Linked DNA regions of Homo sapiens. The protein of the gene in region 2 purifies or fractionates together with the protein of the main gene of each other region. This does not show direct contact. Each region holds a gene or a part of one and is shown on either strand. Other genes may lie near its edges.

Region 1 (3,823 bases), on a different chromosome or scaffold from region 2:
TGGCACAGTGTGGATGAGGAACTCTAAGTAACTCAGGCTGGCTAGAGGACAAGTTATGCATTTCATGGCGTAGTAGCAAAATACAAGAAGTAGGTAGGAGCCAGGATCCCAGAAGTCTTGAGAGCCATTCAAAGAATGTGAATTTTGCCACTGAAGAGTTCTCACTTTTTTTGAGACAGGGTCTCACTTTGTTGCCCAGGCTGGAGTGCAGGGGTGAGAACACGGCTCACTGCAGCCTCAACCTCTCAGGCTCAAGCAATCTTCCTGCTTCAGCCCCACAAGTGGCTAGGACCACAGGTATGCACCACCACACCCGGCTAATCTTTGTATTCTTTGTAGAGACGAGGTTTTGCCAGGTTGCCCGGGCTGGCCTTGAGCTCCTGAGCTCAAGTGATCACCTGCCTCAGCCTCCCACAGTGTAGGGATTATAGGCATGAGCCACCATGCCAGACCGCCACGGAAGAGTTCTATGAGGTGACTATTCACTCTAGCAGTATACAAGGGAATGGAATCATATGCAGTAAATTTAGAGACAAGTAGAAAAATTAGGAAAATGACCATCATTTCATTAGGAACTGACCAGATGATAAGGAGTGGAAGGAAGTATCTAAAATGACTCCTTGATTTCTGGCTTAGGTTAATAGATGAGAGTCATCTCTTTAACCAGGACAGTAATGCTGGGGAAAGAGGAGCAGATTGAGAAAAAGGTAAGTTTAGTTCTAGACCTGATGAACTTGAGATCCAGGTACATGCCTTGTAAGCAGCTGGACTACAGAAATAGACCTCAAATGATTTACATTTACTAATTCGGTATTAATTCACATCTCTCAAGCTATCAAAATTTTACTAACAAAGGCAAAATTGACTGTCAAAATTTAGATGTTCTCTCTGACCCTACATACCCTTATTTGAGGAATTAGCAGGAAAAAGAAAGAAAGAATAAGAGAAAGAGGAAGGAAGGAATGAGCAGAAGAAAGGGATCTGGGAAAACCGTGTTTAACAGTTAATGTCCTGCCTAGACAATACTTTCATATGTCCTGTTTAGGAAGCAAGCAAGTAAGAGATAAAAAAGGGAAAAAAACATCCAATCACGCATGTAGAGATCTATGTCACTAGAGTGGTGGTTATTTGAACTGAACTATAATGAATGTTAAGAATCATCGTCAATTGTTTACTCTCCTTACTTTAGCTTATTCTTAAAATCTATTTTCTCAGCATGGTCTACAACAGAAGAACCTGTTCTATTTTTAAAAAGTACAGAATTCAACGTTGGATGATGCAGGGTTAGACCCACCTCTCTTTCCTTCTTCTCGACTCACAGTTTTTATCCTTATCTTTGTTTCTTTTTCTTTTATGTGGGCTTCTACTCCTATCCCTTCTATGTCGTGAACACTCAGCATCCAAATAGCTTCCACCAGACTGCCGTGAATCTACTGAAGCTGATCGCCTTTCTTCATTCCTAAAACACAGAAAAGAATGTTAATCAGTTTGTGTTACCACTGGTCTCCAGTATACGTACACAGACACACCAGTCTAAAGTGTAATATTCTATATCAAACCAATGGTAGATATGGTCTAAATATGCACAATCTTATAACCCATATAAAAGGACAAATAAACACAGCTCTTAACCCATTTATGCCTGAGGTTGCAATTTTTTTAATTTTTGCAATGAGACCTTGGCGATGACCTTGAGCAGTAGGACATAAATAACTCCCACATGCTTGGTGTTCCCATAATGGAATACTAGGCATAAATGTTAGTATGTTTTGCTATTTGAATATTTCACTAATATGGCTATCCCCTGAAAACTGTCAAAGGGTAATGTCAGAACAACTCTGGTACAATAACCCTGGGCACTGACAACGAAAAACAAAAAGCATTTTCACGAGTTTACTGTGTGCTATCAAGGGTTTTGGAAATGCTAAAATTTAACAATTATAAGTTAATTGTTATCTGTTATCAAAGAGAGAGTATTTTCACCAATAAAGATAATGACGTACTTTTCGGCATCATCCTCTGCCTTCTCTTGCTCTTCTTGCCAATGATTGCTGAGTTCTTCCATGTGCACATTTATCACATCTCGAATCACCTTGGGAGAGGTAAGCACCGAACTTCAGGTAAGAAAACTGCTCAAAAAATTAAGACTGTAACGCTAGAAAAATCAGTGCTAACAATCAAATATTTACTAAGTGCTATGACATAATTGACTGTGGGACTTGTGCAGTTTAGAGAACACAGAAAAGGCAATGGTCAAACTGGAATATGAATAGTAGATAAAAGTTTTACAGCAATATTAAATTTGAAGTTGCTATAACTGTACTACCTTTATGTGAGAAAATATCTCTGTTCTTAGGAAATACATACTGGGGATAAAGGGTTATGAGGTATGTAATTTAACCCTTAAAGAATTCAGGGGAAAAAAATATGTACAGATCGAGATCGAGAGAGTGAAAAATGTGCAGAGAGAGAGAGAGAGAGTGCCAATGAGAAGCTATGTGGCAAAATGCTAACAATGGGTGATCTGGGTAAAGACAATATGGGAGTTCTTGGTACTATTTTTAGTTTTGCAATTTATCTCTCTATTAGAGCTTATTTACAAATGATTTTTTTAAAACCTTATAATTAAGTCATCTTGACTTAATCATATGACTTAATAAGACAAAATATGAAACATACAGTCACTTCACAGATACTTTCTGAATGACTCTATAAAGAAACTTTCAAATAGGTAAAAACCACTTGAAAGTTTTTCCTTTCCTATTTACCCATGCCACCAAGCACAGGGTTAGTCACTGCAGAGGCAAAGACAAAACTAAAATAGGAGTTTACACTTCCCTCATGATTAAATAGAAAATGTTTTCAGAAAAAAGGTATAGGGGACACGGGGCAATCTCAGAAACACTATTCATTCAGGCCTGACTGCATTTCTCCCCACCTTAAAGAAACTTTCAATGGCTCTCAAAGTAAAATCGAACAATATCCAAACTCCTTAATGAAGCCTTCAGAGCCCTCCAGGATTTTCCTACATAAGATAGAACTTAGCCTCATCTCTCAACAGAGAAGCCCTAAGCTCTAGCCACCCTGGGTTACTAATGAGTCTCTGAAAAACTCCTATACTTCTATCTGCTTTTCAGAATGCTAGTTCTTCCACCCGGAAAATCCTTATCCACCACTTCTCCTCCTCCACTATATTCTCCCATGGAAAACCTAAGATATGCCAAGGTCCAACCTAGCGGAGTGACATGAGTCACACACACCTATCTCAAGTTCCAGCTCTCGCACTTCCCTGGCAGGCCTACAAGCCTCCCTGTCAGCAGCTCTATGTAAGCGCCTTGAAGCCTGCTATTTGCACAGAATCCACCTAGCTCAGGCTCCACCACATAGGCAAGAGTCAATAGCAGACATTCCTTTATTCCTCCTTGCTTCTCCCTTTCCCTCAAATGCTTTTCTCTATGAAGCCCTTGCCAATCTTTTATTTCAATTTTTGAAGCTGGGTGATGGGTACATTCCTTAGACGATGCTATCCACTTTAGTATATGTTTGAATATTTCCACAATAAAATATCAACTATAAAACCGTAAAGAATGCTAGCAGCAACATTTAAGCTTGATTACAAGGGTTATGAGACGAGAGAAGAAATAACTGATGAGCCAAGTATCTTAGGGACTATGAGAATCACCAAGGTAGTATGACAGGGACCCAGGTCTCTACTTGCTAAGTTAAGTCTAAAACACAGATTTTAACTGTAAAAAGAACAGCATAAAATTTAGAGCTAAGCTGTGTGGTACAGAGTATTAGTACAATAAACTAGTGATAGATT
Region 2 (3,823 bases):
CACACCTGTAATCCCAGCACTTTGGGAGGCCGAGGTAGGTGGATCACCTGAAGTCAGGAGTTCGAGACCAGCCTGACTAACATGGTGAAAACTCGTTTCTACTAAATACAAAAAAATCAGCCGGGTGTAGTGGCGCATGCCTGTAAACCCAGCTACTCAGGAGGTTGAGGTAGGAGAATCACTTGAACCCAGGAGGCAGAGGTTGCAGTAAGCCGAGATGGAACAATTGCACTCCAGCCTGGGCAACAAGGGCAAAACTCCATCCAAGAAAAAAAAAAAAAAGAAAGAAAGAAAAAAAAGAAAAAGAAAGATTCTTCTTTCAAGGAAGTATATAAGGCAACTCTTAGATATGGAATAAGTTGACTTTGAAGTTTCCAGCCATTTTTCTTACAAATGCACGCAGAAGGTTACGAGGAAGATTTCAGGAAGAAATTTAAAGCAATCCTCACTAAAGGAAAAACAACAGTGAAATACTATGTCTGCATTTGAAAAGTTTCATTAAGTTCCAATGTTATACACTTTGACACATTTAGAATCACCCTCAAACAAAAAAGCAACAGGCAATCCTCTGAAGATCACAAAATTTTACTTCCAATGTGAAAAAGACTTCATGAAAAAATTTTAAGCACTAATTATAACTAGTACAAATACACAGATGGATAATATAATCATAAAATATTTTGCATTAAGCTGGCTTTCATCCTTTGGAATCCTAAACAAGAATTGCATGAATATTTATAATTTATTAAAAGATACATGAAAGTTCATATCAAAGCTCCAGCACAACTTTACATTATTTTCTAGGACCCCACACAGATTACACGTTTTTTCTCTATGTATTTTCTCATTCTTCTCACTCTTAACCTAGTACATATGCCTACATCCCAGTGCTTTCTAAAAATTATTGAATGTCATGTTATGATCCTCACACAAGTTTTAATCCTAAATCAATATGAACTGTGATACCTCAAAATAAACAGCAAGTGACATGAGTACAATATAGACACACTATATTCCTACAGAGCTGACCAAATTTGTTGCTGCAATGTTAATGATGAAATGAAACTCTGGCCTACTCTGTTCCATAGTCACAGATGCACTGTTTTCCAGCCATTTTTCTTACAAATGAATGTAGAAGGTTGCAAGGAAGACTTCAGGAAGCAATTCAAAGCAATCCTCACTAAATGAAAAACAACAGCCAAATACTATGTCTGCATTTGAACAGTTTCATTAACATTATGCTGCTATATTTTTTATGCTGCTATATTTGAGTTAAATGCTAACACAGGTTTTTAGTGCTTTTTATGTTCTTTAATCATGAAATTGTACATCGTGTTACTTTCCAAACTTCACCTACAAAAAAGATATAGATGTACAACTCCTTTTAAAATGTTTCACGGCCGGTTGCAGTGGCTCAAGCCTGTTATCTCAGCACTTTCGGAGGCCGAGGTGGGCGGATTACTTGAGGTCAGGAGTTCAAGACCAACCTGACCAACACGGTGAATTCCCATCTCTACTAAAAATACAAAAATTAGCTTGGTGTCATGGCAGGCACCTGTAATCCCAGCTGCTTGGGAGGTTGAGACATAAGAATCACTGGAACCCGGAGGCAGAGGTTGCAGTGAGCCAAGATTGTGCCACTGCACTCCAGCCTGGGCAACAGAGTGAGACCCTGTCTCAAAAATAAAACAAAATAAAATAAAATGTTTCACTCCATTTTTACCTTTGGTAAAAACAAATTTGTGAATAAAAAGGCTTCCTCAGCTGAACAGCATTTAATTCTTAAAATTCCTATACTATCTTATAGACTCTATAATACAGAATACAAAATGTTAAAACAAGTAAACCCTTTTACACCACCAAGGGAGTGAGTGGGGAGAAAAGTCAGAAAAATATATAAAGCTTTGAAAGGCTGGATGTGTGGAGAATGCCAGGAGAGGGGGAGGGTTTCATGAAGTTCTAGGCAAGCCCTTTGAAGACGTCACCTCACATACATAATGTTACAGCAGTCAGCACAGGCCTCCTGCTTTCCTATTGGTGGGCACCGTGTCAGCCGACATCAGAAGATAATCATCATTGGCTAGACAATTACAACTGGAGCAACTAGCATCCACTGCTGTTAGCACAAACCTGGCAGGCTGCTGAAAGAGAAGGCAGAGAGAGCCCAGCTTCCCTTCTCACTCAATGAATTATATGTCGCCTTAGCAATCACCAGGTGATTTTGCTCCCTGGCTAGCAGCACTTCCAACTTAAGTCAGCTCTTAGTGAGAAAAACAGGTAAAGGCCAGACATCTCATAAAAGAGCAAAATGTCTCTATTTTCAATGTTGTAAAATTGCAAGGACTTTTCAGTGAAAATTAGAATTCAAAACTCCTATTTGGACCTATGAGCAGACATTTTTCTCTACCTCATGTAATAAACTCTCATTGACCAGATAATATAACCAGACAGGATATTTTTCACTGGACATGTAGTTTCAAGATGAGGCCCAGGATGATTCTACAAGGGAATACACTTATTACTTTGCATTTCAATTGCTATTCTAACCTATTATATATGAAACTTTTTGCTAGCAAAGTAAAAAAAGTCTGCAGTATTTACTTTCATGGCTAGGCCAATGAGTATGAGGTTAATGATTCATTAAAGCAGCAATAAACTTGAAAACTAGCCTCAGTTGAACCCTTTAGGGTTTATACAAATGCTACTCCAAAAGTCGGGCCCCATTCCATTAACACGTGCTATGGTTAGTAAGTATGGATTATAGGGTATGTTAACATTAATTTGCGCTATGGTTAGTAAGTATGGATTATAGCGTATGTTTAATAAAGTATTCTTATTTTAGGTCCTCTTAAATGATGCTAGTTAGCAAAGGCAGCATACTGGCAAAATACTACTCCTGGCCATTCTCACAGTTCTTCAAAAGCCAATGTAGTTCACTTTTGAGAGAGGATGTTTTAATTCTCTAAATTAACAAGTTTTGCCTGTTACTAAGAAGAGATTTATAAGGACAACCATAAATTCCCAAAAGACAGAGTAGAAGCTTCACTATATCATGTTTTTCCTCCAGAAGCTATTTCAAACCATTTTAAGTTAATGAGTCTGAAAAAGGTAAGATTTTATGGTTTCCTCAAGTTCCTCTCTCCTCAAGAGGGTCTAAGCCTTGGTTATGGAGTTCCCTTCTCCTATTAAAAAGGGAGTGAAAAGAAAATCTGGTTCAAGACTTTTTGTCCTGCATTAGCTGGATTCTATTAAAAATAAAAACTAAAAGCTTTAATTTGAACCTCCCGGGTTCAAGCAATTCTCCTGCCTCAACCTCCCGAGTAGCTGGGATTACAGGCACCCGCCACCACGCTCGGCTAATTTTTTTGTATTTTTAGTAGAGATGGGGTTTCACCATATTGGCCTGGCTGGTCTCGAACTCCTGTCGTCAGGTAATCCACCCACCTCAGCCTCCCAAAGTGCTGGGATTACAGGCAGGAGCCACCACACCCGGCTAATAAAATTAAATTTTAAAAAGTGTTTAAAGTCTTTTTGGCTGTACAGTTTTTGGGGAGGGAGGAGAGATAAAATTGGGCACCCTGGGATATTGGGAGAAATGCACAAAATCTGGCATTTAAAAAAAAACATGAAAGTAAGACAATTAGGGTCAGGAAGAGTTGCAAGGGAGGGGTAACAGCCAGCAGGGTTCTTTGACTGCAATAAGCAATCTAAGAACATAACATCAACAGAGAGCAGAAGCCAGGAAGGGAAAAATCCCAAGATGTGACTCTGCCACGGTATGCAAGTTCTAGCCTGTTAACCTTCGGGTATTAACGAGTAGTGC

What was found.
Region 1: the proteins of ELOVL6 (region 2) and SNRNP48 purify together in Homo sapiens (affinity purification with mass spectrometry; one large-scale study listed by BioGRID and IntAct). This does not show direct contact.

What each region holds. Positions count from the first base shown.
Region 1 is NC_000006.12:7,603,667-7,607,489, reverse strand, and holds part of SNRNP48 (U11/U12 small nuclear ribonucleoprotein 48 kDa protein), read right to left. Parts: intron 2,093-3,823; coding exon 2,004-2,092; intron 1,460-2,003; coding exon 1,295-1,459; intron 1-1,294. UniProt on the Homo sapiens protein: Likely involved in U12-type 5' splice site recognition.
Region 2 is NC_000004.12:110,191,925-110,195,747, forward strand, and holds part of ELOVL6 (very long chain fatty acid elongase 6), read right to left. Parts: intron 1-3,823. UniProt on the Homo sapiens protein: Catalyzes the first and rate-limiting reaction of the four reactions that constitute the long-chain fatty acids elongation cycle.